2 separate regions of the Homo sapiens genome follow, and region 2 is linked to region 1. Evidence: fine-mapped expression QTL. A gene starts in region 1. The other region holds a variant in brackets. All regions are shown on one strand. Distances are between the middles of the regions.

Region 1 (15,348 bases):
GTAACTTAAAACAACACTCATTAATTAGCTCACAGTTTTGTAGGTCAGATGTCCAGCTTGGTGTGGCTGTATGCTTTGCACAGGGACTTAGCTGAATTTAAGGTGGTGTCTAGGTTGATTTCTCATCTGGAGGTTCTGGGGAAAAAAATCTGCTTCCAAGCTCATTCTTGGTGGTGGCAGAATTCTTTTCCTTGTGGCAGTAGGACTGTAGTCCCTGTTTCCTTGCTGGCTGTCAGCTGGGGCTAATCTTAGCCTAAAGATTGCTCCTATCCCTTGCCACATGGCCCCTCCATCTTCAATCAGCAATGGCTCATCAAATCCTTATTCTGCTTTGAATCTCACTTCCTCTCCTGTGATCAGCCCAAGAAAACTCTCTGCTTTAAATCATTCATGGATTAGGTCACGCTAACCAGATAATCTCCATATCCCAAGGGTAACTGGTACGGGGCCTTAATTACATCTGTAAAATCCCTTTATAGCAGTACCCATATTAGCAGTGGGCTGAACAACTAGGAGAGGTGTGTATGCCAGGGCTGGAAATCTTGGAAGGCTGTCTTGGAATTCCATCTACCACATGCACCTATTTCTACAGAGGTTATGAGGCTTAAAATAAGTGTATGTAATGTGCCTGGCACATAACAAGCATGTTTTAGGTAGGAGCATTTGCATGCAAAAAATTAGCCACTTGGGTTCTCAGGATTGATGAGAACTTGGTTGTGGTGAAAGAAGAGTGTTGTTAGGAACAATGGAACAGCCTCTGGTTCTCAGCTGAAGGGCTTCATTTTGATCTATTTGGAAGCAGGAAGTGCCTGTCTTTCTTGGATGAATGACACTGATGCTCTCCCTGATTTAGGTTTTTGCTGTGGCAACAGCAGTGAGGACAGGCTTTGGAATGAGGGAGAAAAAACCTGATAATGGCCGTCTGGACCAGCCCTCTCAGAAACCATCTGCTTGAAGCTTTTGATTCTGAGAGGAGTGGAGAGGTTTCCTCCAACTACAAGTTCAGGGATTTGGAAACCACTAAAATAATATCTTTTCCAAAACTAGTCCAGCAAGGCTCTAATTGGGAGAAATGGGAAATGGAAGTCAGGCTCCCCACTCTCTCTGCTAACCACACACGGGCCGTGGTTGAGGTCCATTTCCAAATCACAGGAGGCCACTTCCTGTCTTAGCTTAGCATTGTTGGCGGGAGAATCTAACAAGGGGCCAAGGCCCTGTTGACTCTGGGAGAGAAGCAAATGGCCACCATCCATGAGTAAGAACCTGGACTTTCATCCAGCCTGCGGGTTGAATTGCCTGCTCACAAGAAATCTAGGTTCAGAGCGTTCTAGGGCAGGCACAAAATAAGCAGGACAGAGATAAAAAGATGGGAGTGAGAATGGAGAGATTGTATTTTTCCTTCCACAGATGCCATGGGGGAGCTGGGGCAGGGAGGAGCTTATCTTCCCCAAGCTCCTAGACGAGGCAATTCTTATTTCTAGCTGAATTCCTTTTCATCTCTCCTGACTTCTTCTCCACCCTTCTCCTCTATCTGCCTTGGCTTCTGGATCTTCTCAAAGCATCCCCCAGAAAAACTTCAGCCAACTTACTCCCTTTGACCAACTGTCATTTTTGAAAAGCTGCCCAGTCTCTTTGCGGTGATTTTCAAAGAGAGACCCAGGACTAGGTTTTCTTTCAGTGACAGCAATAGGTAGGAGGAGGGGTGAAGAAGACAGGAGTTTCTGATGTGGGAAACCACACACACACACACACACACCCCTAAGAAATGCTGAATCTGTAATTGCAAGACAATATAACCTTCCTGACATCTGAGGAAGATGTCAAGAAAGAAAAGCAAAAACTCATATTTGTGTTATAGCTGCTGGGGTTTCTACATTAGGGAGAGCTGACCCTGTTTGACCTTGCCTGTCGAGACCAGAGGGTTACAGAGAGACTGACCAAAGATATGTGGCCAAAAGGCCAATCATATGTGGGCAAAACTGGCCAAGCTGATCAGTTTGACACGTCAAAAGACAGATGTTGTCTGACTTGGGCAGCTTGTGGGCCAGAGAAGAAATCCAAAGCTCAGTATCTAAGAATGCAAAGGCGAGCAACAGTGTGAACCATCACCTGTGCTCCAGGTAAAGCCTGCCTGCCCTGCGTCATCACTTATTCAAGCAAAGGACTAAGAGCAGCACAATTCTGGCTTGTTAGTGTATGGCCTGAAAGTGAAGACTTCATTTCCCTTCTTCCCTGTGCACTTTCCTCGTCACTGTTCAATACAGGTGCCAAATGTGTCATCATGCTTGATGGAGCCTGGCGTTGGCTGGCTGGCTGTGATCAGCAGCTGACCACCTGACAGAAACACTTTCCCTAATTACATTTTTAACTTGGATTGTGCCACACTTAGTTACATTTTTGGGGGGAAAAGAAAGGAAGGGAGGGAAGAACAGTGAGTGAAGGAGGTTTGCAGAAAGCTTCAGGGCCAGATAGCACACAGACAGCCCACCTTAAAAATCAACACATCTTCCCATTTGTAACTTAACTACATGTCTAAATGTTGACATCCAGTGAACAAATATTAATTAAAAACCCAAGACATTCAAAACTGCACAAATGTCATCTTCCATTGTGTGAAATCAAAAAGGAACGTGTGGGTGAGTGGGGAGGTGGGGAGACACACCATAACCTACCTCTTATTGGTAATGAGCTTGAATTGTGGAAGGATACTTTCTGACTTCATACCATTTCTTATTAGTATGATGGTCAAAATTACAAAAAAAAAAAAAAATCACTCAGACTAATGGTCTCTTGTGGGCAAGTGGCGAAGAACACTGATTTGGCTTATTTTATTCTCTGTACTTCTCCTGGTGTGGTGGACAGTTTGCTGATACAATTATTTTGGATAGGACTTCATGTTAGGTATTGGCATGGAGGCATCCACATTTTTTTTTTTTGAGATGGAATCTCACTGTGTTGCCCAGGCTGGAGTAGAGTGGCACGATCTCTGCTGACTGCAACTTCCACCTCCTGGGTTCAAGTGATTCTTCTGCCGCAGCCTCCTGAGTAGCTGGGATTACAGGTGCCCACCACCATGCCCAACTAATTTTTGTATTTTTAATAGAGATGGGATTTCACCATGTTGACCAGTTTGGTCTTGAACGCCTGACCTCAGGTGATCTGCCTGCCTCAGCCTCCCAAAGTGCTGGGATTACCAGTGTGAGCCACTGTGCCTGGCCCTCATATGTTTATAAATCACTAGATTTTAAATATTGGCAGGGCTACAAACAAGGAGAGCTTGTCTGTGAAGAGAAAAACAATTAGCAAGGTCCTTCATTGTTTCTTCCTCTGCTGTCCATTCTATTTATTTGTCTGCTGCTAGGATCTAGGGGTGTCCTCGACCCTGCACATAATGGCAGGCCCCCTGTCTTCATCAGCACTGCTACATCCTCATATTTGGCAGGGAGCACTCTCATTTAAGGTAATGAGTGACTCCCTTTCACAATAGAACTCTGAGTGTGGCTCAAATTCACCCTGGCTAATGAATCTTCTGTATGGTTTTTTTTTTTTTTTTTTCTGAGGCAAGGTTTCACTGTCACCTAAGCTGGAGTGCAGTGGCACAGTCATGGCTCACTGCAGCCTCAACCTTCTGGGCTCAAGCAATCCTTCTGTCTCAGTCCCTCAAGTGACTAGGACTACAGGTATGTGTCACCACTGGCTATTTTTTTTGTTTGTTTTTTGAGACGACATCTTACTATGTTGCCCAAGCTCATCTTGAACTCCTGGGCTCAAGTGATCCTCCCTCTGCCTCTGCCTCCCAAAATGTTGCGATTACAGGTGTGAGCCACCCTGCCCGGCCTTGTGTTTCATTTTTAACCCTGATATAAGTAACAACACATCTGCTTATTAATATGTTCATGTTAACATTTACTATCCAGTTTGGGTGGAAGGAGAGTGTTCTCTGCCTCTGAGGTCCAGTTTTAACATTTATAAGTGCAGCGGGTCCTCCTGTTGTGGCCCACAAACCTTACTTGGGAAAATGTCACATTTGAGCAACCACACAAAACTACTCTGTGATCTCTGAATATAGTAAGGTCACCAGCCCCCACTTGATCTTCTGTTAAATGACCAAGATCATTTCTGGTCAGAAAGTATGTGTGTTTTTGCGAGTTTTTTTTGTCTTTGTTGACACATAATGGTGTAGAAATCAAGCTTAAAACTGATTGTAGAACAGTTTGGTGAGAAAGATTTTTGCTTTTCTGCCATAATATTCCCCTGGACTTTGCTTCGGGTCCAAAGTAACACCGGGAAGTTTAAGACCACAGAAATGTGACTAAATGAATGCTGATCACATTTACAAAAGCAAGTGACTTTGTCCAAAGTCTCTCATTCTCAGATCCATAGTAGACATATAGATACTTTTTCTAAGGGCAAAATTTCCTGGTTCACTAAGCCAGACTTCCATGTTATTGACGAAATAAAGATAATATTGAAAATGACAGTGTCTGAGAAGCAATCTCAAACTGCCTTTTATTACTGCACACAGTTAACGTGGAATTGAGAATCACTTTCTTTCTAACATAAAATGTGAGCCGTAGAGTTACTACTGAAATTCACCACAGTGATTCAGCCAACAACTCAACTTATTCCTTTGCAAAAATTTCTGAAGGTTTTTTTTTCTCCCTTCAATCTCAGCATTACAAAATAATGAGCAAACAGTTAAATTGGCCCAGCTCTGAGTTTCAAGAGAGATTTATGGTCTGCTCATCCTCTGGAGGGACCATAAAACCACCGATGACATCTTACTTTGAAATCTCTTGTATTAAGTAAAGAGATGGGTGTGGTGCGATAGTGAACTCTGCATGTGAGTGGTATTTAGACAAGTTCTGTACTTCAAAACAGAGTCCTTAACTCATACGAAGGCTTCCTGCCACTAGCAAGGGATCTCAGTAATGAGCGTGCTGCCTTCCCTAACACCCCCATCCTTTTCCAGAAAGATTCTTAATTTTATCCTAAATATATTTGATATTTTTTCCTCTGTATTTTGCTTTGGGTTTAAAAAATTCCCTGAAAGATTTTTTTCTCGTCTGTGGAAGCATCAAGCCGCAGATCCAAGTCAGTCCAAATCACCAGGATCATACAAGACGATAAAAGTGCCTTCAAGTTCTAATACTTGCTGGATGGGCCCAAGCCGCGTTTTAAATGTGAACAATGGGGTGGCTGCGGCAGAGAACTGACCATTTACTTCCTGCCTCAGATGACCCCCTTGTGATCTCTGAAACTGGGCAGAGGAATAAGGAAAGGGAAAGAACTGGGTTTTGGGGAGAAACATGCTTTCTGGAAGGCGCCCAGGTTTACCCAAAGAGCACAGTTAAGTGCTGAATTTCAACTAGCTCTGGAGTCACCCTGTTTGGGGCCTCATTCTGGAAACCCGAAGTCCAGCGGCAGCTTTCCTCCACATCAGGACAGAGAGTGGGGTTTGGGAGCGGACGAGGGAGCGGGAGTGGACGAGGGAGCAGGAGTGGGGCTCAACGACGACCCAGGCGCTCAAGGGGAAGGGGCTGAGAGCGTTTCTTCGCTGTGCGGCTGCAATAGAAACTTTTTCCTCGTACTATCTGACTCCGGGACTGGACTGTGAGGTCTGCAACAGCTGGTGGGGTTCGGGTGGGGAACACACTCTAAGCCCAGCGCCAGGGCTGGAGCCGTGGGTGGAGCCGCTGCAGCCCTGGGCCGGGGGCGTCAGGAAACTCGAGACTGGGGCGCGGGGAGGCCCCGGCCAGAGCGCCCGCTCTCCCGCGTCCCGGGCGGGGTCCTCACCTGTTCCAGCGGGCCACCTTCCTCCGGTAATACCGCAGCGCCTCCTGGCTGGCCAGGAGCGAGTCCTCGGCTCCCAGGAGAGGCGGCTCCTCCGGGACGTTGTACAGCGGGTGGGCGAAGAGGGCCTGCAACTTGGAGCTCGACCCGCTGTGGCTGCCGCCAGCCGGTTCAGTCCGGGGCTCGGTTCGGGAAAAGTTGTGCACGATCGTGCCGGGGTCCGAGGCAGCTGCGGCCGAGTCCCGCGCCAGGGAGGAGGCGCGGCCGGTGCACGGGCACCCCCGCGGGCGCTCCCGAGGCCGCAGCTGGCGCTGTACTTGGGGCCAGAGGTGGAAGTAGAGGTCGGCGGAGAGCAGCGCGCCCAGCAGCAGCAGAGTCAGTAGGCGGTCCCGGCGCAGCCCCGGCATGGCGTGCTGGCCAAGGGGGACGCCGGGGGCAGGCCGGCTGTCTCCGGGGTCCCGGGAGGGGTCGCGGGGTGCGGGCAGAAGAGGTGCCTGGAGTCCCGCGGGTGGGCCGGGGTCAGTGAGACCGGAATGCTCCCCGCGCGGGCTAGTCCCCTGTGGAGGGGTGTCGCTCCTCAACTTGGGGACCAGGTGCACGGAGCACCGGGGCTCTCGGAGTCAGCGGGCGTCGCTTCTCCGCGCCGAGTGAGCCGAGGGAATGGGGTTCCCGGGGTGCCCGCTTCTTGCGCCTTTTCTCCCGTGCGCCCGCCCGCCCGGACGCTCGCGGCAGGTGAAGGGCCCCGGGGCGCCGGCGCCGGCTGCCACCGCGGGCGGACGGGCGACGGGGCGGGGGGCGACCGCGGAGGGCGGACGGAGGCCGCCGGCTGCAAAGCCCGGGGCGTCTCTCCTGAGGATGCTGTCGCTCGGCGGCGGCTGCTAGTGCTCCCGCGACTCCTCCTGCGGGCGGCGGAGACGCCAGTGCCGGCGGCTGGCACGGGCGGCGCGAGTGGGGAGTTGGCGAAGCAGGAGCGGCTCCGGGGAGCTTGTCTGTGCGCCTGGACTCCTAGAGGCAGAGGTAGCGCGGGGCCTCCCCGAGCCTGGCCTGGCGCCGGCACCCCCACCCACTCTCCGCTGGCACCTGCCTCTGGCGCAGCTGACGGCCAACTCCCGATCCGAAGCCGGCGCTGCCCTTGCACCTTGTCACCCACCCACTGCCTGCGCCCTCCCCCTCGCTCGGGCCTCCCACTTTCCCTGCCCAGGTCTCAATCCAGTCACTTTAAGGGACTCACGCGAGGGGTCCGAAGCCTCTTTTTACCATTTCTATTATTTTTAGGGAAAAAAAAACCACCACAAGCCCCCTAAAACCCTTTTTTTCCTGTAAGCTTTGCCAAATGAGTGTGTGGGGGGGGGTGGGGGGAGGCGGGGGTGGCAGTGTTGGTATCTGTTCTTTCTTTGTGTTCCCTTCCACCTCCGCCCCCCTGCAGAGCGCAGGGCACATCAAGATTCATAACAACTACCTACCACATGCCTGGCACATAGTAGGTGCTCAGGAAACACGCTCTTGGTGAAGGAAAGAGCTTGACCTTTAAAAGTAAGGTATCAGTTTTACCTAGAATCTTGCTGATTTCCTGTTTGGAAGGAGTTTGATTCCAACTCTGCCTGTACTTTAAAAAGAGGAAATGTTTCTTGCACTCAGGGAGGGAGGGGCCCTGATGACCCCACTCCGAACTTTTGAGTTTAGCTTGGTGTGAAAGTAGTCCACCCAAATGAATCACTGGAGGACACATTTAGGCTTTCTCCAATATTCTGTGAGGTAATGTACCCTCCCCACACCCAGTTTTCCTTTTGAAGAAGAGGGAGGGAGTCCTGAACTCCTGGCTCCTCTATTTAATGACCCCATAGTATAGTAAAGTGAAGTCTGATTGGAGAGGCGGCCCCACCCTGCTGAATTTCAGGAAATCCACCAGAAGCTGCTTGCCCAGGCAGCAAAGCTTCCCATGTAAGTTAGTTCTACTCTTTAACCCCCTCCCTTCCCTTGCTGGAATTGAGAACCCTCAGACATACTTTGACTTGTGGGTTCAGACCAGAGTTCTTTTCCCCGTGGTTCAGTGTAAGATTTCTTCGGGACTTTGCAGTCTCCTCAAATGTAAATGAAGATAATGATGGAACCTACCTCCTAAGGTTATTATGAGACTTAAATGAATTGAAGTACAATTATGTGTCACGTCTGAGAAATGCATCCTTAGGCAATTTTCCTGTGTGTGTGAACATCAGGGTGTACTTACACAAACCTAGATGGTTCAGCCTACTACACACGGAGGCTACATGGCATAGCCTGTTGATCCTAGGTACAAACCTGTACAGCATGCGACTACTGAATGCTGTAGGGAGTTGTAACACAGTGGTGAGTACTTGTGTGTCTAAACATAGGAAACATACAGTAAAAATACAGTATTGTAATCTTATGGGACCACTGTTGCATTGACTAAAATGTTATGTGGCACTTGACTATGTATAAATTACTTAGAAGAGCTCCTAACTCATCCTAAATAAGTGTGAAATATGTGTTTGCTATCATTATGATTACTTATTAGTTCCTGTAGTACACTAGGCTTGGTTAGAGACTGCTCATCGCTAGGACAAAAATAGAAAAGGATGGAAAAGGAAGATAGCAGGAAGGAACCTGCTTTCAGGGGCATAACATTGTGGCCTGAGTGCCCAGTCCAAGTGAAAAAGCCCAAGACGGTACTATTCCCAGCTACTCCACTCCTCTGGGTATGATGGTGGGCATTTTGAGGGGTTCTAGAACCTCCTCCTTTTTATCTGGAATTAAATTTTAACTGATTTCCAATTTCTGAGAGACGTTGCAACTTCTAATGTGTTTAATTAGATGTCATGGCAAGCGAATGAAGAAGTCAGGCATTGAATGGTGGTGATGTAACTGCAGTAACTGTGTGGCAAACTGATGCGCATTTTTCTCGGCTGGCAAAGGACGTGGATGTGGTGACACTGCAGGTCTTGTGACTTCAATTCTCCTCAACCCATGGGGTCATACTCGCTTAGTAGACTCTTTTTTTTCTGGCCCCAATTTAGGGAACAATAGTGTAACTTGCTTGGAAATTATGTAAACATATTTTCCATGCCCTTTAAAGGTCACAGTCAAGTGCAGAACTGCATGTGGGAGTTAGATATTAAGTGTGAATGAAGCTGGATAGGAGAGTGGAAATCCTACCAGTAGGATTGGCCAATAGGATGTTGGCTTCCTCAGGTTTGCCTCTAATCTACCTTTACCCCTCCTAGAAATGAGCCTTCTCCTGCTCCTCCGATCTTCCATGTCTTGGGCCCTGGCTTACTTGCCAGCCTCACATACATCCTCTCCGTTCACACTGAAGGTATCCTAAATTGCTGTTTGCTGGGACCCATCATTCTGTTTAAAATCTTTCATTGGAAGCCCCTCCCTCCTTTTCCATCTCTACTGATCTTGATGTATCTAGAGCCTCATAATCTCTTGCTCATACTTGCAAATAGGCTTCTAACTGGTCCCTCTGCTTCCATGGTACCTTAGTTCAGTGCCCACACACACTCTTGCCAGAGTGAGACTTCTAGTATGCAGAGGCAACCAGGATATTCTCCTCCTGAAAACCCCCTGAGCTTCTCCTTGTTGCTGGATTAGGTCACTCATTGTGACACAGCTCTTCGTGGTCTGGCTTCTACCTCCTTTCTTCTTTATATGCCCCCTCTTTCGTCTTCACCCCACAAGACTTTCTGCAATTCCCAAGTGCTCCAACCTTGTAGGGGTGGGTTGCCCCTCCACACCTGTGGGTGTTTCTCATAAGGTGGAACGAGAGACTTAGGAAAGAAAAAGACACAGAGACAAAGTATAGAGAAAGAAATAAGGGGACCCGGGGAACCAGCATTCAGCATATGGAGGATCCCCCCAGCCTCTGAGTTCCCTTAGTATTTATTGATCATTTGTGGGTGTTTCTCGAAGAGGGGGATGTGTCAGGGTCACAAGACAATTGTGGGGAGAGGGTCAGCAGACAAACACGTTAACAAAGGTCTTTGCATCATAGACAATGTAAAGGATTAAGTGCTGTGCTTTTAGATATGCATACACATAAACATCTCAATGCTTTACAAAGCAGTATTGCTGCCTGCAGGTCCCACCTCCAGCCCTAAGGCGGTTTTTCCCTATCTCAGTAGATGGAGCATACAATCGGGTTTTATACCGAGACATTCCATTGCCCAGGGACAGGCAGGAGACAGATGCCTTCCTCTTGTCTCAACTGCAAGAGACATTCCTTCCTCTTTTACTAATCCTCCTCAGCACAGACCCTTTACGGGTGTCGGGCTGGGGGACGGTCAGGTCTTTCCCTTCCCACGAGGCCATATTTCAGACTCTCACATGGGGAGAAACCTTGGACAATACCTGGCTTTCCTAGGCAGAGGTCCCTGCGGCCTTCCGCAGTTTTTGTGTCCCTGGGTACTTGAGATTAGGAAGTGGTGATGACTCTTAAGGAGCATGCTGCCTTCAAGCATCTGTTTAACAAACCACATCTTGCACCGCCCTTAATCCATTCAACTCTGAGTTGACACAGCACATGTTTCAGAGAGCACGGGGTTGGGGGTAAGGTCACAGAATCTCAAGGCAGAAGAATTTTTCTTAGTACATAACAAAATGGAGTCTCCTATGTCTACTTCTTTCTACACAGACACAGTAACAATCTGATCTCTCTTGCTTTTCCCCACACAACCTCTCACAGATGTGTCTTTAACCGAAAGCTCTTTCTCCTTTCCCCACCTGGAAAACACCCATTAGTCCACCCAAGCTTTGGCCACTTGTCCAATTTTTCTCTGATGCTTGTCTTCATACCCATTAAACTCAGTGCCTTGTGCTCTCATGTGCCCCCACAGCTCCTCATATGTTCCCCTATTACAACGTTGGCCATGTTGGGTTTCCTTTTTAGTATGTGTTATGGGTTGACTATATCCTGCTCTCAAATTCACTTGTTGAAATCCTAACCTCCAATACTTCAGGACGTTACCTTATTTGGAAATAGGGTTGTTGTAGAAATAATTAGTTAAGCTGATAGCGTACTAGTGTAGAGTGGACCCTTAATGCAATATGACTTGTGTCCTTATAAAAAGGAGAAATTGGGACACAGAGACATGCATACAGGGAGAATGCCCTATGAAGATAAAAGACAGATTGGGCAATTCTTCTATAAGCCAAGGAATACCAAAGACTGCCAGCAAACACAAGAAGCTAGGTAAGAGGCATGGAACAAATTTGTCCCTCACAGCCCTCAGAAGAGTCCAACTCTACTGACACCTTGACCTTGGATTTATAATTCTAGAACTGTGAGACAATAAATTTCTGTTGCTTAAGCCACCCAGCTTGTGGCACTTTGTTACAGCAGCCATTGCAAATTTACACAGTACACATGTCTGCCATCTTCACTGGAGCACTACTCCTGAGTGTAGAGGGAGAATGCTACTTATATATGTACACAGAGCTCTGAGGATGGGGCCTATCATTTGAGAAATGCTCAAGAAATGTTTGCTGAGTGAAGGCAGAGATATTGGCCATCTCTACAACTGTAGAATCTCGCATATGGCCTAGTATACAGTAGGGGCTAAATTATTGTTTACAATAAGATGACATAGCTTTGGACCCTGTAGGAGACATAAAGAAATATATGACACAATTCCTTCCTGCCTTCAAGAGTCTTGTGATCATCAGAGAGTCCAGCTATACCTGTACTCACAAGCCAATGGGAAAAAAGTATGAGGTAGTACACAGAGCAGATTAGCAATCTGTGCCATTGCATGCATTAAGAGGAGCAAATGCAAAGGGCAGTTGTGTTTCCTTTCAGTCTAGCTAAATATCAAGCTCTCTACTTGCAGGAGTTAAATCATGAAAACAATAGAGTCAACATTTAAACACCAAGTTCCTCTATCTGTGAAGGTTAGACTCTATTTTTATCTTGCCCATGTTCCCGTGTTGCTTAGAACTTGACTAGTTGTTTTTTGTTTGTGTAGGCAGTTTTCTATACTAGACTATAACTCCATGAGTTCAAGGGTAACATGTTTTCTTTTTTATTTTCCTGTCTTCATAGGATCTTAGACACAGCAAGGCATGCAAATGAGAATTAACAAATTCCTGCAGAATAAATGATGTTTGTGGGTTTATGTGTGTTCATACATGGAGGTGGGAAGTGGTTTGGAAAAGAGCACTTAAAATAAGAACATAAATGTATATAATCTAGCTCAAGATAAGTGTTAAGTTAGAACATCTACATAAGTGTTAAGTTAAACATCCGTTATGGTTTTTTTTTTCTTTAGACAGGGTTTTTCTCTGTCATCCAGGCTGGTGTGCAGGGTGGCAGAGTGTGATCTGGCTCATGGCAGCCTTGAACTCCTGACCTCAAGTGATCCTCCCACCTGTCAGCCTCCTGAGTAGCTGGGACTACAGGCTCATGCCATCAGGCCTGGCTAATTTTTTTTTTTTTGGTAGAGATGGGATTTCACCATGTTGCTCAGGCTGGTTTCCAACTCCTGAGCTCAAGCTATCTGCCTGTTTCAGCCTCCCAAAGTGTTGGGATTACAGACATGAGCCACTGTGCCTGGCCCCAGTAGATGTTTACTTAGAACATCAATGGAAATTGCCTTGATCCTATTGAAAAACCAATAAGTAAGAGACACATAAAGAAATAACTAAATGTAGACATCTATGTCCCTCACAGTTTTTATTATAGTATAGATGCATGTGAGGAATGTTACCTTTACCTGCTAGCTGTCTCAGTAATCAGCAAGAGATGCAATTGAAATTACTATAAATGGAAGACCTAGAATGGAGTGAACTTAAGAAACTGAAACTGATTTAGTATTGCACTCAACACCTTATTCTGAGGTAGAAAGTCCAAAATTTTCTAATCGTGACCAACACATAATGCCTCAGCATAAGCCAGAGATTTCTCAAAGTGCAGCCTGTGGATCAGAAGTACCTGATGTGCTTATAAAAATGCAAATTCCAGGGCCACACCATAGTTCTAGTATTTTTTGGAGGTGGGGCCAGGAATGTACATTTTCAATAAGCTGATTCTTACCAGCTTATAAGATTCTGACACACATTGAAGTTTGGGAATCACTGGTTGAAAGGACAGTGCTAATGAGAGCAAAGTCACAGATTTGATTCCAAATAGGCTAGGTAGGATCCATTGTCTAACATTGGCCATCCAACTTGTGTCATAAGGTTCTAAGGCGCTAAAGAGAGAGAGACAGAGAGTACGTGTTTCCCCATCATTGCTACTGGGGAACACAAATAAACAAATAAGTGCCTGTTCTTTACAAATGATGGGTATGTAGTGTGATCTTGCTATAAAAAGTCATGGCTGTACTTATTGGTAAATTTCCCCTGGGAAACTGAACTACCTTCCCTGGATCTCAGTTGCCTCATTTGAAACATGAAACGCTGAAGTGAATGATCTTTAATGTCCTTTTCAGCTCTAAAGAATGAGAATTTTACTTTTTTTTCTACTAAGCATATATTAATCTAGACCTTTTCACACAACTTTATTTCCAGTATAAACCAAATACTTGAGAAAGCAAACCAAGGCATTTTGTAGGAAGAGTAAGAGCACTGGATTGGGAGTTAGGGAGCTTACACTGTAATCTTGGCTCAGTCATTAACTAGTTTGGTGGCATGGGACAAATTAATTAATGTCTCTGGGCTTCCTTTGCCTCACGTGTAAATAACTATTTTGTGGTAGACAATTTCAAAGTTCTCTTCCAGCATTGAGTTCCTTCAGGAGTGAAAATGAGGTAAAGACATTCTTAGATGAAAGAAAACTAAAAGAAACAATCACCAGCAGACCTGCTCTAACAAAAATGCTAAAGAAAGATTTCAGATGGAAGGCAACTGCCACCAGAGGGAAACCTGGAACATCAGGAATGAAGGAAGGGCAACAGAAATGGTGAAAATATTGGTAGATATAACAGATTATTTTTTCTCATCTTAAGTTTTACAAAATATACCTAATAATTGAAGACAAAAATTATAGCATTATCTGATAGAGATTCAGTATACAGAGACGTAATACGTATGACCACTACAATACGAAGGGAAGAGGGTAAAGGGACTTGTTTGTTGGTAAGAACTCTGCATTCCACTTGAAGTGGTAAAATATTAATTCCAAATAGCTGAGAAACATTAAGTATATATGTTATAATTCCTAGATTATAATACTATACTGTACTAAGAGATATAATAAAATTAAAAACTATACTGAGAGACATAATAAAAATAATAAATATATTAAAATGAAACACTAAAATTACCCAAATCATACAAAAGAAAGCAGAAAAGGGGAAAGAAGAACAAAAATATAGGAAATAAACAGAAAACAAATTATAAAATGGTAGCCCTAAATGCAAACATACTGATAATTATATTAAATATAAATGGCCTAGACACACCAATTAAAAGACAGAGATTTTCAGAATGAATTAAAAAACAACTCAATGTTATGCTGCCTACAAGAAACCCGGTGTATATATGACCACTGGTAACTTAAAAGGATAGAAAATGACATATCAGGCAAACACTAATTAAAAAGAATCTGGCATAATTATATTAGTATTACTCAAAGTAGCAATCAAAAAGACAATATACCAAGAAGTCATAATAATTCTAAATGTGTATGCCTCTAACAATACAGCTTCAAAGTACATGAAGTAAAACTGATAAAACTGAAAGGATAAATGGGAAAATTCAACAGTTATAGCTAAAGACTTTAGTGTTTCTTTTTCTGCCACTCACAGAGCAAGTAGACAGAATATCAGCAAGGATATAGAAGAACTGAAAAATACTATTGGCCAACTAAATCTAATTTAACATTCATAGGACACTTCACTCAAAAGCAGCCTAATACACATTATTTTTAAGTGTACATGACATTTACCAAGATGGACTATATCCTCCATTATAAAACAAGCATTTAAATTTAATATAATCAAATCTTACAAACTGTGCTCTCTGCTCATAATAGAAATAGACTGGAAATAAATGACAGAGAGATATCTGGTAAATCTCCAAACATCTGAAAACATAAACATGTACTTACCACATGACCCAGTAATCCACTGCTAGGTATTTACTCAAATGAATTGAAAACTTATGTGTGCATAAAAACCTACTTATGAAAGTTTTATAGCAGCTTTATTAATAATTGCCAACATTAAGTAGTGCATATGTCCTTCAGTGGGCAAATAGATAAACTGTTGTACATCATACAATGGAATACTACTTAGAAACAACAAAGAACAAAATATGGGTATACATGACAGCATTGATGCATCTCAAAGGCATTATGCTGAGTGATAGAATCCAGTCTCAAAAGGTTACATATTGTATGATTACATTTATATGATAGCCTAGAAATGGAAAAGCTATGGTGACAGAGAATAGATCATTGGCTGCCAGGCATTAGGGACCGTGATGAAGGTATGACTACAAAGGTACAGCATTAGGAAGTTGTTTTGGGTGATGGAACTATTCTATATCCTTATCATGATGGTGGTCATGTGAATCCATCCATGTGTTAAAACTGAC
Region 2 (15,348 bases), 20 kb before region 1:
ACCCACTCCCACGATAACCCGTTAATCTGTTAATCCATGGATCCATAAATGAGTTAATCCATTCATGACAGTAGAGCCCTCATAACTCAATCACCTCTTAAGGACCCCACTTCTCAACATTGCCACATTGGAGATTAAGTTTTAACATGAATTTTGGAGAAGACAAGCATTCAAACCGTAACATCATGTGAGTTATTGTTACTGTGACTTCTGGGACTCAGTACTGGTAACTTTATCCTTTACAAAGGGGAAGGAATACTGTGAAGAATTATTTCCAACTTCTGCTTAATTTCCCAGTTACCTGAGTTCTGCTTACCAAGGTGAAGTCAAGAGCTCTATTTGGCATTCCCTAGGATGGTCCCTGGGGTAGGCTGAATAATGGTGCCCCCAAAGAGATCTGCGTCTTAATCTCTGGGCTTGTACATACCCTATGTGTCCAGATGGGCTGGCAGATATGATTAAAGTAAGAATCTTGAGATGGAGAGATGATCCTGGGTTATTTGGGTGGGCCCTACATGTAATTACAAGAACCCTTATAAAACAGACACATAGACAAGAAGACAGAGAAAAGAGGATGAGGCAATGTGACCACAGAGGCAGAGACTGGCATGAGGTGGCCACTAGTCGATAGGTACAACTATTATGTATCAATATTTTTTTAAAAAAGAAATTCCTGGAGTCACCAGAAGCTGAAAGAGATAAGAAATGGATTCTCGCCTAGAGCCTCAGGAGGGGACACAGCCTTGCATACATCTTGAGCTTGGACTTCTGGCCTCCAGAAATGTAAGACAATAAATTTATGTTGTTTTAGGCCAGTCAGTTTGTAATAATGTGTTCTGGTGGCTTTTACAAATATACAAGCAGGCCAGGCACAGTGGCTCATGCCTGTAATCTTAGCACTTTGAGAGTCCAAGGCAGGAGGATTGCCTGAGGCCAAGAGTTCAAGACCAACCTGGCCAACACAGGTTCACTTTACTTTACATATATATATATATTTTATATATATATGTCTTCACTTTATATATATTATATATTTTATATATTATATATTTTATATATTATATATAATATATTTTATATATTATATATTATAGATATTAGATATTATATATTTTATATATTATATAATATATATTTTATATATTATATAATATATATTTTATATATTATATAATATATTCTATATTTTATACATTATATATAATATATTCTATATTATATATAAAATATAATATAGAATATTATATTTTATATATATTTTATATTTATATATTATATTTTTATATTTTATATTATATATATTATATATTATATATTTTATATTTTATATATTATATATTTTATATATTATATATATTTTATATTTTATATATTGTATATTTTATATTATACACACACACACACACACACACACACACACACACACACACATAATCAGCCATTGGCAGTTACAGCTGCCACCGGGCAGGGCGTGATGTTTAGGCACTGCTGTTTCTGAGAACCAAGTCCAAAGGGCGCCCCCTAAGAATGGCCTTTCCCTTGCCCAGGAGCTAACCCTGGGGAAGTGGATGGTGTTAGGCTGGAGAGAGGTTCTTGCTTCTTCATCTCATCCCGAATTCTGAAACTTGGCTGCATGCTGAGCCCTTTAAATGGGTCTGGCCAGCCAATGGAACAAGCTCCCATAAGAGTACAAAAGCCCAGTGCTCAGCCAGCTCCAAATTCGTAGTGCCATGGTCCTCTCTGGCTCTCTAGACCCTGCCCCCATACCTGCCTCAAGCACTCTTTGCTTCAATCCCCCACACCTCACATGTAATAATTGTCACCATTTCTGGAGCCATGGCTCTCTGCCAGCACCTTTTATGAAGACTTCACATGTGCTGGCTCATGACTCTTCACAACAGCCCCATAAGACAGGTCCATTGTTAGCCCATTTTATAGATGAGGAGACTGACTTGAGCTAGCTCAAGGTCACCTGCCTGGTGAGTGGCAGGCACAGTGCAGTGATTTGGACCTGGCCGACTGGCTTCCTAGGCCAAGCTCTTCATCATGACCCTACGTGCTGACTGCATCATGGTCCATCTGGCACCTCCTGGCTCCTCATGCTGCAGCCCTGAGCCCAAGGCTCCCTTCTGACTGTCCCAGCCTCCTCCCCAGGGAGAGAGACCTGTAAGTCCATAAATGCTGTGAGGGTGCTCAGTCTGGGCAGGGAGATCCTCGCTGTAGACACCTTTCAGACACTTAGTGGTGGGTACTACAGAAAACGTTAGTTACATGTAGTTGGGGACCTAGGGACAAAACGACTTGCTTAACTGATGAGCAAATCTGAGAAAAAATTAGGAATCAAAATATGATTGTTTTAAATGGTTTTATCAAAGTGGCTAGACTTGCCCTGTTGATTTTGCTCAGCCCTGTTCATTTTGAATAGCCTAACAGCTCTGAGTCAAAATGGCCCCAGGCTGAGCTAGTTGCCTAGGGCAGGCCAGGAGGGACATTCTAGGAGCTGGGACTCTGTCTATAGTAAAAAGTCTGCTTATCTACCCTCACAACAACTTTCAGACACCCTGGAGAAGAATGAAAGAATGATCCCTCATCTAAGAGTCCCCAGAGTCCAGTCAGGGAACTAGCAGATGCCTTCTATCCGGGCCAAGTTTCCCAGATTCTTGTTTTGGCTATAGAGCTAAGATCCAAAACATCTAGCTCCACACAAATAAACTTAGAAAGAGCTGCCAACGGTGACCACTCTGAGGGGAGTGACCATGTGCAGAAAGACAGTCAAGGCTTGCAGAAGTCCTGCCATGACGGCTCCTGCTCAGAGGACATCTCTTAAACCATTTCCTTACGTAGCACACACCAATTCCCCTCTATTCTGCATGGTACATGACACATTTTGGGAAACATGAAATATTAAAGCTGGACTGCGGAGCTCCTCAACCTAATTGTGATGTGATGATTCACGCAGCACAGGGGCCTTGCAGCTGCAGAATCTCCCTTTCTGCAGAACTGTTGCCTCCCTGCTGTAGACCAGTGGTTCGCCACTGGGGGCGATTTTACCCCTCAGGGGACATTTGGCAATGTTTGGAGACATATTTGGTTGTCATAGTTGGTGGGGAGAGTGCTGAGGGCTGTTGTAAACATTCTCCAATGCAAAGGACAGCTCTGCACAAGAGAAAATGATCTGGCCCCAAATGTCAGTAATGCTGAGTTAGAAATCCTGGGCTAGAGCCATAGAATAATGAGCAAATAAAGCACTTAATCCTCTGATGATGGCCTGAAAATTGCTCTGATGGATTTTGCACTCGGTGTAATTTAATATTTTCCATAGACGCGTAAAAGCCTTCCTCAGAGCCTCTCCACTCCTTCTATAGCTTCTGCACAGCCAAAAATTAAAAATGTTACTTAATTGTTTAAAAAAAGAAAACCAATTTGAGTCAGCAAGCATTTAGTTGTCAGACTTCTACCAACCTAACAAGCATATTGATAAAACACTAACACACGTGTTAGTTGCAAAAGATGCAATATTGATTTATTTAAATGTCATCATTGTGGTGCTTTTCAATCTTCCAACTGTGTAATCCTAAAATAAATAAATATATATTTCACACACCACACACACACACACACACGCACACTATTAGCAAGTGACATTGGATAGACAGGTGTCCTCTCTTTCCTCTACCATTTTCCTGAATGCAAAAAGAAGAAACGTGGTGTAAAGGCAATACTCTGAGAGAACCAAGACAAAGCAGGAGCTTTAAAAATCCACCCCCTGGGTCCTCTAATAATCAAAGGTTTACCAGAATATATTTATTTTCAAAAGTGTCTGAATTCTGCCTTACTGCCTATCATACAGGCATGGGCATTTGAAAGAGAGATGGATTTGAATGTTGGGGAATCTGCATGTAGGTGGGTACAATACGGGGTTAGGCTGGGGCACATATTTTCATGGTTCATAAGCAAATTTCCTTGTGGCTCACTCAGATTAAATTCTTTCAAGTCCTTGGCCTGTGAGCTAGTGCTAATTTGCGTGGTATTATTTTTCCACCTGATTTGCAAACCAAGAGAATGATAGCAAATGTTGGCCTCCTTTCCTCCTCAGCATGACCAGTCACCCATGTGGTAGGATAATTTATTGAGATATTAATGTGTTTTTTGTTCTTCCGGAATTTTACCCACCCCTGTTCTCAGAAGATAGCTGGGCCTTTGTGTTCCTTGCCTCAGAGTGTTTTTAGGATCCAGGACCAAGGGGAAGTTTAGACAGGTAGCCAGGCTTCTCTCACTCCTTCCTTGGATTTTTAAAAATGTCTAGGCTCGGCCAGGTGCAGTGGCTCATGCCTGTAATCCCAGCACTTTGGGAGGCCGAGGCAGGCGGATCACAAGGTCAAGAGATCGAGACCATCCTGGTGAACATGGTGAAACCCTGTCTCTACTAAAAATACCAAAAAAAAAAAAAAAAAAAAAAAAAAAATTACTGGGCGTGGTGGCAGGTGCCTGTAGTCCCAGCTATTCAGGAGGCTGAGGTAGAAGAATTGTTTGAACCCGGGAGGCAGAGGTTGCAATGAGCAGAGATCGCGCCACTGCACTCCAGCCTGGTGACAGAGCGAGACTCTGTTTCAAAAAAAAAAAAAAAACATGTCTAGGCTCAGTGAAGGCATTTGCTAGGCAGGGGGATTTAACAGAGAATGTGAAAGTGCATAAAGAAGCACAGAATTTTGGGGAAGCATGAAGAGACTCCAAGGTTAGGAAAGGAGAGTTGACTGGGGTCTGTGTCTGGCCTGTTTCTTGGAGGTGATCCAATGTGCTGGGGAACGGTTAGGTGTGTGCAGAGAAAGACTCATTTTAGGCACCAGAAACCGAGTCTCAGCCAATAATCCTGTGCTTGAACTTGATGCAGAACCAACAGTGCCACCCACCTGCACGAGACCAGGTGATGGAACATGGACTATGGGTCCTCCTCAAATGTGCTCCCAGACACCCTAAGGACATTGACCCAACATGAGGGGCTTGGGGTAAGGAGCTCCAGTGATGACTCAGACTAAATTTCTAGCCAACCAAACAGAAAAGAGGGCCTAGAGTCCAAAGTGATTGGACTTTTGAAAAATAAACCAATGCTATGTTACTTTGATTTTTGAGTTTGTAGAGCAAAATCCATCTGAATTCATTTACCTATTGAGTGAGAGTAGGGTAGGTTCTGTTAGAGCAACAGCTTAATCCTGAAATCGGAGTGGCTTTTCAAAACAAGAGCTTATTTCTCACTCATGCTACTTGTCTCGTGAAGGTCAGTAGGGATTCTGCTCCACACACTGACTCAGGGACCCAGCTTGATGAACACACCAAGATCCCAACAAATGGTCTTCACAGTCATCAGGGCAAGAAAAGAGAGGAACTGGAAGATGAAGTGCTGGCTCTTCAATGCTTTGGGAAGCGACGCAGATCACATCAACTGATAACCCATTGTCCAGGACTAGTCACATGACCCCAACTAACTGCTGGGGGCTGGAACACACGGGAGAACAAGTGGACTTTGGTGAGCAGAAAATGCCTCTGCCACAGCCTCTTGGTACTTATTGAACATAGGATGTGTCTTTTGATTTAATACTATTAATAGTTTGCATTTGCATAAATCTCATTATAAAGGCATTTTAGGTTATTTCCATTTATTGTCTTATTCTCCTCTCCTCAAGCTCTTAAAGAAACTAAGGTCCACAAAGTGGAAGTAACAACATAATAAGTGGAAAGGAGGAATAAAAGCCAGGGTTGTGACCTGAGCTTTTTCTGCTCTTCCACAGTGGCTGCAGAGAAACGAATGCTTTGTCAAGAATTTAATTTGAATTTCCTTGGAGCCTTCTTAAAGATCATGGTGGTGGTGGGTGGGGGGAGACACAGAACCTGATTAACTGTTTGCTGTTGAGAAAGCAATGACTGTACCAAGATTTTACTGAGATTTTTG[C/T]GAAATGGGCTGGTTTCCCGAAATGGGCTGGTTTCCCGACAAAAACTCATTCCTTTCTCGTTAAAATACAATTGCTTCCTCTTCTGGGAGCTGGTTTTATGCTATGTTGCAATGCACCTCTTGTTTCCACTCCAGCTAACTGTGTCCTTAACCTTATCCTGACCTCATAGAACCACAGCCCTGGCTCAGCACTTAAGTAAAACCCGCCCAGAGAGGGGCATGGGGCTTCTGAGCTGGAGTGGCCCCGAACTGGAAGGGACTTGAATGAGAAGGGGCATATCATGGATTGTCCCAGGGTGGAAACCACCTGGACTTCTGCCTTGGTGAGCAAAAATCAGACTCAAGAGGAACCAGTGTCCCAAAATGGGCCTACAGTGTGAATGAGGAAAATAGCTAACTACCTCTTATGTGGCACTCACATGGGGCCAGGCAGTTTTAAGCACTTTGCTCTTTTAACTCATTTCACCCCCACAGAAACTCCTCATAAGGTCAGTATTATTATTATTACCACCATTGTAAACATATGGGAACCAGATATAGGCAGCAAAAATGACACCTCCAAGGTGGCACTGCTAGTACAAGGCAGCGTTGCGATGACACCCGAGTATGACATCTGAATATGTGTAAGATACTCCACCAATAATGATTTTTCCCCCTGATTAGGAAGACCAAAAAACTTTTGTATAAAAATAAAAAACTATGGTGCATAAGGAGGGATGAGTTGGATAACTTTTAAAACGTCTGATGCTTATTGCCAACTTGCCCTCCAGAAAGAGAAAGCAACCTATACTTCCAGAGCAGGGTACTGGGAGTAATTCTGCCTCGATAATCTCTGGGCCCTGATGCAAAGGGGTGTACTGTGACAGCATGGCTCACTAAGCCTCCTGGACACAAATCTCTTCTCAAATTGGTTTCCAGGACTCAGGCTCAGACATGAAATAAAGTTAAACTCAGTGTTGAGTTTCGGCTCTGGAGTTGAAAAGGTATCTCCGAAATGCAGTTTTTCTTTCTTTCTTTCTTTCTTTCTTTCTTTCTTTCTTTCTTTCTTTCTTTCTTTCTTTCTTTCTTTTTCTCTTTTCTTTCTTTCTTTTCTTTTTTTCTTTTCTTTCTTTCCTTTCTTTCTTTCTTTCTTTCTTTCTTTTTCTTTCTTTCTTCTTTCTCTTTCTCTCCTTTCTTTCTCTTTCTTTCTTTTCTTTTCTTTCTTTCTTTCCTCTCTCTCTCTTTCTTTTTTCCTTTTTTTTTTTTTTGACAGAGTCTCACTCTGTTGCCCAGGCTGGAGTTCAGTGGTGTGATCTCTGCTCACTGCAGCCTCCGCCTCCCGGGTTTAAGCGATTGTCTTGCCTCAGCCTCCTGAGTAGCTGGGACTACAGGTGTGCACCACCATGCCCGGCTAATTTTTGTATTTTTAGTAGAGACAGGGTTTCACCATGTTGGCCAGGATGGTCTCGATCTCCTGGCCTCGTGATCTGCCTGCTTTGGCCTCCCAAAGTGCTGGGATTACAGGTGGGAGCCACTGTGCCCAGCCAAAATCCAGTTTCTTGTGTAACATACTCTGTCTGAGCCACTTTCTTCATCTGAAAATGAGGATAAGGACTGTACCTGCTTATGGGGTTGTTGCAGGGAGTAAATGTGTGGTGGGTGAAGTGGTCAGCACTGTGCTTAACATAGAGTAAGTGCCGCACAAGTGTCACCTGCCATCAAAGTGTCACCGACTCACCAGAGGCACGGTTTGAAGGGAAGGTCTCCAGGGAGCAGAGATTAGCCTGTTTAACCAGTTTAATAAATGCTTTAGTAAAAGAAAAAGAGTTGTTCCTAGAATCAGCAGAATTCCTGTCACTTCAAGGAAAGTCATTGAGAAACATGGGCTCAGCAGTTTGCACTGAGAAGGGTATGTGCATGTAGGAGGGGAAGGGGGGCAGAGTTTCCAAAATAAGTAGATTGATTGCGTTCTGTGTTTTCTCCCCATTTGCAAGCATTAGGTAATTGACGTCGAAGTGATGGAGGAGAGATCAATATGTGTGTTTTCTCTCTCGCTAGAAGCATGAGAGGCAGCTAAGTCAAGTGAGGGCGATGGCTGGGCTGGAAGCACTGGTGCCTTTCCCTGACAACAGGAGGCCACAAAAGCCATTTCATCATCATCATCCACCCAAACATCAAACATAAATGGATAAGGCTGCATATCGATAAGTATCAAATAACCTGTAAGGAATATTAAAGCATAATCAACTAGCAGTGGTCCTTTATCTGCTTGAGGATCAGTGCTGTAGGAAACCAGGCACCCTGCTCAGTGTGTTCTGTACATGATCTGACTCCATCTTCCCAGCCACCTCTTGGGGTCCAGATTACATCCCACTTTATAGACCAGGAAACTGAGGCTTGGAGGAAATGAGCCTTGGCCCTGCATAGCGCTTATGTGGAAGAGCCAGGATTAATTTTTTTTTTTTTTTTTTTTTTTTTTTGAGACAGAGTCTCGCTCTGTAGCCCAGGCTGGATGGAGTGTAGTGGCATGATCTAGGCTCACTGCAACCTCCGTCTCCCAGGTTCTGGTTCAAGCAATTCTCCTACCTTAGCCTCCCGAGTAGCTGGGATTACAGGCACACACCACCAGGCCCAGCTGATTTTTTTTTTTTTGTATTTTTAGTAGAGACAGGGTTTCACCATGTTGGCCAGGCTGGTCTTGAACTCCTGACCTCGTGATCCGCCCACCTCGGCCTCCGAAAGTGCTGAGATTAGTGCCAGGATTTAAACCCAGAGTTGCCTGACTGCCAAGTTTCTCTTAACCATTCATTTACCAAATATTTGTTGAGTGCCTACTATATACAAACAGCATTTTAGATACCTGGGTTACAATGATGAAGACACAAAGAAGCCTCCATCTTTCTATTAGTTTTCTGTTGGGGCCCTAACAAACTACCACAAACTTAGTGGCGTAAATAACAAAAAATTCCTTCTCTCAGTTCTGGAGTCTGAGAGTTTGAAATCAAGGTAGCAATAGGACTGTGCTCCTTCTGGGGACTCTAGGAGAAAGCCCCTTCTTTGCTGTTTCTGTCTTCTGGTGGCTATTGGTGTTCCTCAACCTGTGACCACCTCACTCTACTCTCGGCCTTTGTGGTCACGTTGTCTTCTCCTCTTCCGTCTGTGTCTAATCTCCTTCTGCATTCCTCATATAAGGACACTTGACATGGAACTTAGGGGTCACTGGATAAGTCAGAATGATCTCCTCATCTCAAGAGTCTTAATTATATCTGTAAAGACCTGTTTTTTTTAACCACATAAGATGATAGTTGGCTGGTTGCGGTGGCTCATGCCTGTAATTGCAGCACTTTGGGAGGCCAAGGCGGGCAGATCATGAGGTCAGGAGATCGAGACACAGTGAAACCCTGTCTCTACTAAAAACAGAAAAAGTTAGCCGGGCGTGGTGGTGCGTGCCTGTAGTCCCAGCTACTTGGGAGGCTGAGGCAGGAGAATGGCGTGAACCAGGAGGTGGAGATCGTGCCACCGCACACCAGCCTGGGTGACAGAGTGAGACTCCATCTCAAAAAAAAGATGATAGTCACAGGTTCTGGGGATTAGAACATGAATATCATTTGGGGAGCCATTATTCGGCCTACCTCAAGGGCCATCCTAGGGAATGCAAAATAGAGCCACCACTCAAACCAATTCAACCCTTGAAGAGTTTAAGATCTGGCTGGGTGTGGTGGCTCACGCCTGTATTCTCAGCACTTTGGGAGGACGAGGCAGGTGGATCACTTGAGGCCAGGAGTTTGAGACTAGCGTGACCAACACGGTGAAACCCTGCCTCTACTAAAAATACAAAAATTAGCCAGGTGTGGTGGCACACGCCTGTAATCCCAGCTACTTGGGAGGCTGAGGCAGGAGAATCACTTGAATCCAGGAGGTGGAGGTTGCAGTGAGCTGAGATGGTGCCACTGTATTCCAGCCTGGGTGGCAGAGTGAGACTCCATCTCAAAAACAAAACAAAACAAAACAAAACAAAACAAAAAAAAAACCCAAACACAAAAAGCTTAAGATCTAATGAGGCTATACACTAAGCAAATCAATACACAAAAAGGCATTAAGTGGTGTTAAGAGCCCAGCTGAAAATAAAACAGGGCTTGGTAAGGACAACATCTGGGACCCCTGTGGGTCAGCAGGACAGGAAAGTTCTCTCTGAGTGGGCAGTTTTGAAAGTAGACGCAAAGGACAAGAAGCAGCCTGCTGATCATCTTCACATCTTCAGTAGAGCCTGACCATTCTGGTTCATCAGCTTAATTTATGCCTTAATGAGTAAATAATACTTCTGGATGAGTTGGGCATAGCATCTCCTGCCAGGAGAGGGAGGAAGAAGCATTTTCTTATATGCAAATAAAATGGCTTTAATATCATAAACTGCAAGCAGCCTTAACAGACCACTGTCTTCACAACTGCCAAAAAGAGCTGCTGCGGACCAACTGCTATAAATCCTAGCTCATCATATTTGGCTGACTTCCCCTGCCTTTTAATGATTTTATAGCTAATAACAGAACAGAATGTCGTCTCATTCAGTTACTTGGGGTGTACATTTTGCAGTGAGTTAAACCCAGAGAGGCCACTGGTGAGTTACGCTGATAAAGTTAGGCATTCAATGGTTGCTTTATTGATGTTTTTTAATACCTAAGGTAGGTGTTTGGTTACAGTCTCTTGGAGTATTTTTCCAGCCAAACATTTTGCAGCCACATTCCATGGCATGTGGCTTTGAGGTATTGATTACCCGCTGGCTCGCCTGTCACAGCAGATTCAAAGGTATTGTCTGAAGGGAATCTAGGCTGGCCCTTAGACCTGTGGCTTCCCTGTAGACAGAGGTCAGTGGCTTTGAGTTCACTTGCCTATCCTGTTTGACTCCATGACTTCAGAAAGAGCCTTTTGTTCCTACCTCTAAGTTCAGTTAATTGGTAAATCTATTTCTTTTTTTTTTCAAATAACAAACACTATGTTTATTAATATCCCTCTATTCAACCCCTCTGCCTCCCACACTTCCGAGTCTTCATTGTGTATTATTGCACTCTCTTCATCCGTGCAAACACATTCTTTTTTGTTTTTCCACCAATACCATGGCTTTATTTATTTTTTTTTTAGGTTTTATGTAAATTTTTCTTTTTTTAAATTATACTTTAAGTTCTAGGGTACATGGGCAAAACGTGTTATTTTTCTGTACTGAATGACAACCCTGAAAAACTGCACTCAAAGTGTTTCTGAAAGTTTTATCCTAAATGCACTGCCACTCAATGTCAGTGAAAAGCCCTGCTGAAAAAATCCAGGTTCATGGAGGGCTGCCCAAAGAATGTGCCTGCTGCCCTTTCCTCTGGAGCCTCAGCAATTTAAATTCTCTCCTGAGATGAGACAAGAAAGCAGGCTTGATCACCACGATCGCGAATGGGTGGGGTGGTGCCTGGGACATGACTTTGGAATTTGCTGTGGGGCACAGTGCTAGCAGAGAGACTCACTGAGAGCCATTGCTGGGTAATTCCCCTATGGATGTGATGGAAAATGCTAGTCCTGACACCATACAGTGTCCTCTCTTGGAGGAGGTGAGGCGAGAAGGACAAGGAAGGTATTCATCTGCCTAGTCACTACCAGGAATTACCAGTGAATTACCTAGTCACTACCAGTGCCCTTCCTGGGTCACTGGCTGCTTTTTACCTTATAGACATGGTTGGTGGCTCCTCCCCACCAAGCAGGGCTGACTCTGTGGTGGGAAGGTTCTCATGGCAAGTGTTCTGAGAAGTTCCTCACTCTTGGCTCCACTGGTCTTGTGTATCCTTCTTTTTCCTTTGGCACATTTTTCTCAACCATTTTATATTGTGATATATCAGAATTATTTTGTGATTTACCTAAAAGATTAACTCTTGGATAAAGATATAGGTATAGATAATCTACTAGATAATCTTTTATCTAAAAGATTAAATTTTTTTTACAAGAGTGAAGATAAATGGTAACTGCATGGCCTTTGTATTTGTCATGGAACATGATTCAAGTGGACTGAATGGTCCCCCAAAAGATAATCCCTGGAACCTGTGAATGTGACTTTATTTGGAAGAAGGCTTTCGCAGATTTAACTAAATTAAGGATCTTGAGATGAGATCATCTTGAATCATTTAGGTGGACCTGATAGCCAATGACAAGTGTCCTTATAGGAGAAAGACCCACATAGAGGAGGAGAAGACACAGACAGACAAAGACAGAAGAGGAGGAGGCAATGTGATCATGGAGGCAGAGATTGGAGTGATGCAGCCAGAAGCCAGTGAAAGCTGGCAGCCACAAGAACAGATTCTCCTCTCAAGCCTCTGGATGGCGTGCTGCCCTTCTGGCACCTTCATTTCAGATTTCTATCCTTTAGAACTGTAAATAATACATTTTTGTTGTTTTAGGCCACCCACAGTGGCTTAAACAGTGACAATTTGTTACAGCAGCCCTAGGGAACAAATATAGTTACCAAATTCCCTTTCAGACCTTGCTCAGGCAATGCTAAGAGATCTGATGGTTCAAGACTTGACTTCCAACTTTCTTTTTTTTTTTCCTTTTGAGACAGAGTCTCATTCTGTCATCCAGGCTGGAATGCAGTGGTGTGATGTCGTTCACTGCAACCTCCGCCTCTCAGATTCAAGCAATTCTCCTGCCTCAGCCTCCCGAGTAGCTGGGACTACAGGTGCCCACTACCATGCCCAGCTATTTTTTATTTTGTATTTTTAGTAGCGATGGGGTTTCTCCATGTTGGCCAGGATGGTCTGAAACTCTTGACACTTCAGGTGATACACCTGCTTTGGCCTCCCAAAGTGCCGGGATTATAGGCATGAGCCACCGCGCCTGACTGACCTCCAATGTTTTGGGAGTGTGACACTTCGGGCATTCACCCTTGGCTGTACAGCTCACAGAGAGTTCTCTGCCACAGGGTCTAGGCTAGTGCAGCAAAGTGTGTAGCAGAAAATCCATCCTTGATGATATATCTAATTTTCTGACAGCAAATTATACCAGAAGATCCAGTCTCAGTTTCTCACCATTACATTAAAGTAACATAATGATTATCATTATAATACCTATGGAGCACAAAATTTTTACCTGTGTTGCTTTGATATCATTAAGTTGCACTGAGGGCATTTTTATCCATTTCAGTGGAGAGTGGAGAGCTCTCCAAGAGGTTCAGCCTCTAGGAGGTGTCACTGCAAGGGCAGCACCTATGTTTCCTGCCGAATGTTTTCACCAGAGGCCCTACATGGAATCCACTGTGGACAACTAAAGCCCAGTTAGTCTGGGGCAATGGGCAAGCTGCTTCATAATAAAACATCAATTGGCTGGATGCCTTTCCATGGAGATTTTCAGGCCAGAGTCTTACGAATTATAAAGACCAATATTTTGCTGTGGTGATCTAATGACATACAATTTAAAAGAGCTTCAAGAAGTGGAAAGGACTCTACATGTTCATGGTGTTAATAATCTTAACAACTATTATCACAAGTGCCCTGTAGATAAATGAACAGATAATGGTCTTGGAAATACACATAAAATATAGGCTGTCAACAGAACTGATGAAGAAAAACAAACCTTCACTTTTGTTTCTACGTATTATGTTGGTTAATATGAAAGGAAGTGCTTATGAGTTTACAAAGCAAGCTTTAAAACCTTTGTGAGATGATACTGTATGCTTGATTCATCCAACCACAGCATCTGCAGCCTTGGTAGGAGTAGAACAATTACAGGAGGAATGCCAAGAGAGACAAAGAGCCAGTTTTCAGCTTTTGACGTAAAAAAAAAAAGGGGGCCCAGAAGAAGGGGAGCTCAAAGCCCATCCATAAACAAATAGATTAAAAAGATAATAAATGATGAACTAGATATTTTGCTTTAAGGAGAGGATCCAGGCTCCAGACTGTCTCATCTGGGAGGCAGAGAGGCTGGGGTCACTTCTTTAAGGAAGGAAAGGCCAAGAGGCCTCTTGAGGCTGTAAGAACCATATGGGAGGAAAAAGAAAATTTCAGATATGGCTTTGCCCCTGCCCCAGGGAACTGAGATGGAGACAGGCCTAAGCCAGCAGATTGTCCTTGGCCATTCCAGGTGAGTTAGCCTCTGTTTTAGTTTTCTAGGGATGCCATAACAAAATACCACAGACTAGGTGGCTTAAACAACAGAAATGTATTTTCCCACAGTTCTGGAGGCTGGAAGTCCAAGTTCGTGGTGTCAGCAGGGTTGATTTCATTCTGATGCCTCTCTCTTTGGCTAGCAGATGGCTGCCTTCTCTCTGTGTCTTCACATGGTCTTCTATGTGCATGAGTTCCTTGTATCTCTCTTCTTATGAGGACACCAATCATATTGGATCAAGACCTACCCACAGGACCTCATTTAACCTTAATTATCTCTTAAAAGGCCCTGTCACCAAACACAGTCACATTCTGAGGTGTACTGGAGTTTAGAACTTCAGCATGTGAATTTGAAGAGACACAATTCAGTCTATACCAGCCTCATTAGGTTTTTGAAGGGTTGTATTCAATTTCTTTCACTTTAACATATGGCACGGGGTCTTACCACTATCAGCTGTCTGCCCACTGCTGGACAACTCACCAGCAGAAGGGATTTCCCTTGAGCTTTTGCTCAGTAGAAGAGAACTAAGTTGTGTAGACCACTTTCTCTTCAATGGCCAGGATTCCTGAATCTCCCCAGATAGCCTTTGATTTATGTTGGCCAACATAGTATGGCAGAAATGACATTTAACAGGTTCTGGCCTGTACTTCAAGAGGCTGTGGAGGCTTCTACCCTCTTTTGCAACCCTGTTGCCACTATATGAACAAGTCTGCATTAGCCTCCTGGAGAATGAGAGGTGGAGGCCACGTGGAGCCAAGATCACCATTCCAGCCCAGAACCCAGACATGGGAGGCAGTACAGCCAAGATCAGCGGAACCAATGCAGTAGCTGACTACAGACACCTGAGTAAGTCCAGTAGAGACCAGAAGAACCATTCAGCTGAACCCAGCCAGAAGTGCTGACCTGCAGAATCGGGGGCTAAATAAGTGGCTTTTGTTTTAAGTCACTAAGTATTGGAATAGTTTGTTATACAGCAAAAGCTAACAGTACACAGGGCCTAAAAGATACTCTCTTAGGCTCAAGTGGTAGAAGCATTGTCAAAGTCATGGAAAGGAGTTATCAGAGACCAATACCATGTTCTTACTAGTGATAATAGTTTGGAGTTGGGGGCAAGGGGAGCAGAAGTCTTGGGTTTGGGCACATCAATTTTGGAGAAAGGAAGGAAGTTTACTCTATTTTCAAATATTGCAAATCAGTGGTTTAAAAAAAATTTCTAGAAGTGGCAGCTTCTTTTCAAAAGAAATATTATACAGAAACTTCAATGTATGAAATAGACACAATTTGTAATTTAT

Which allele goes with the higher level. Positions count from the first base shown, and alleles are read on the strand shown. Sizes are in standard deviations (SD) of each study's normalised expression.
As copies of T replace C in region 2, the expression in whole blood of the gene that starts at base 6,901 in region 1 goes down (moderate effect, 0.46 SD a copy in GTEx).

The links.
Region 2: its variant is fine-mapped to the expression of FAM20A in whole blood (TOPMed, PIP above 0.99). The same link has a PIP of 0.9 or more in blood mononuclear cells and fibroblasts.

What each region holds. Positions count from the first base shown.
Region 1 is chr17:68,594,467-68,609,814 of GRCh38, forward strand. It overlaps FAM20A (FAM20A golgi associated secretory pathway pseudokinase), which reads right to left and starts at 6,901. Exons shown (of 11, transcript NM_017565.4): 1 at 5,797-6,901. The coding sequence starts at 6,200.
Region 2 is chr17:68,574,402-68,589,749 of GRCh38, forward strand. The region is part of intron 1 of FAM20A (FAM20A golgi associated secretory pathway pseudokinase); the gene reads right to left. Among named protein-coding and RNA genes, the nearest start is that of FAM20A, 19 kb to the right of the region's middle. The variant C/T (reference allele first, on the strand shown) is at 5,948.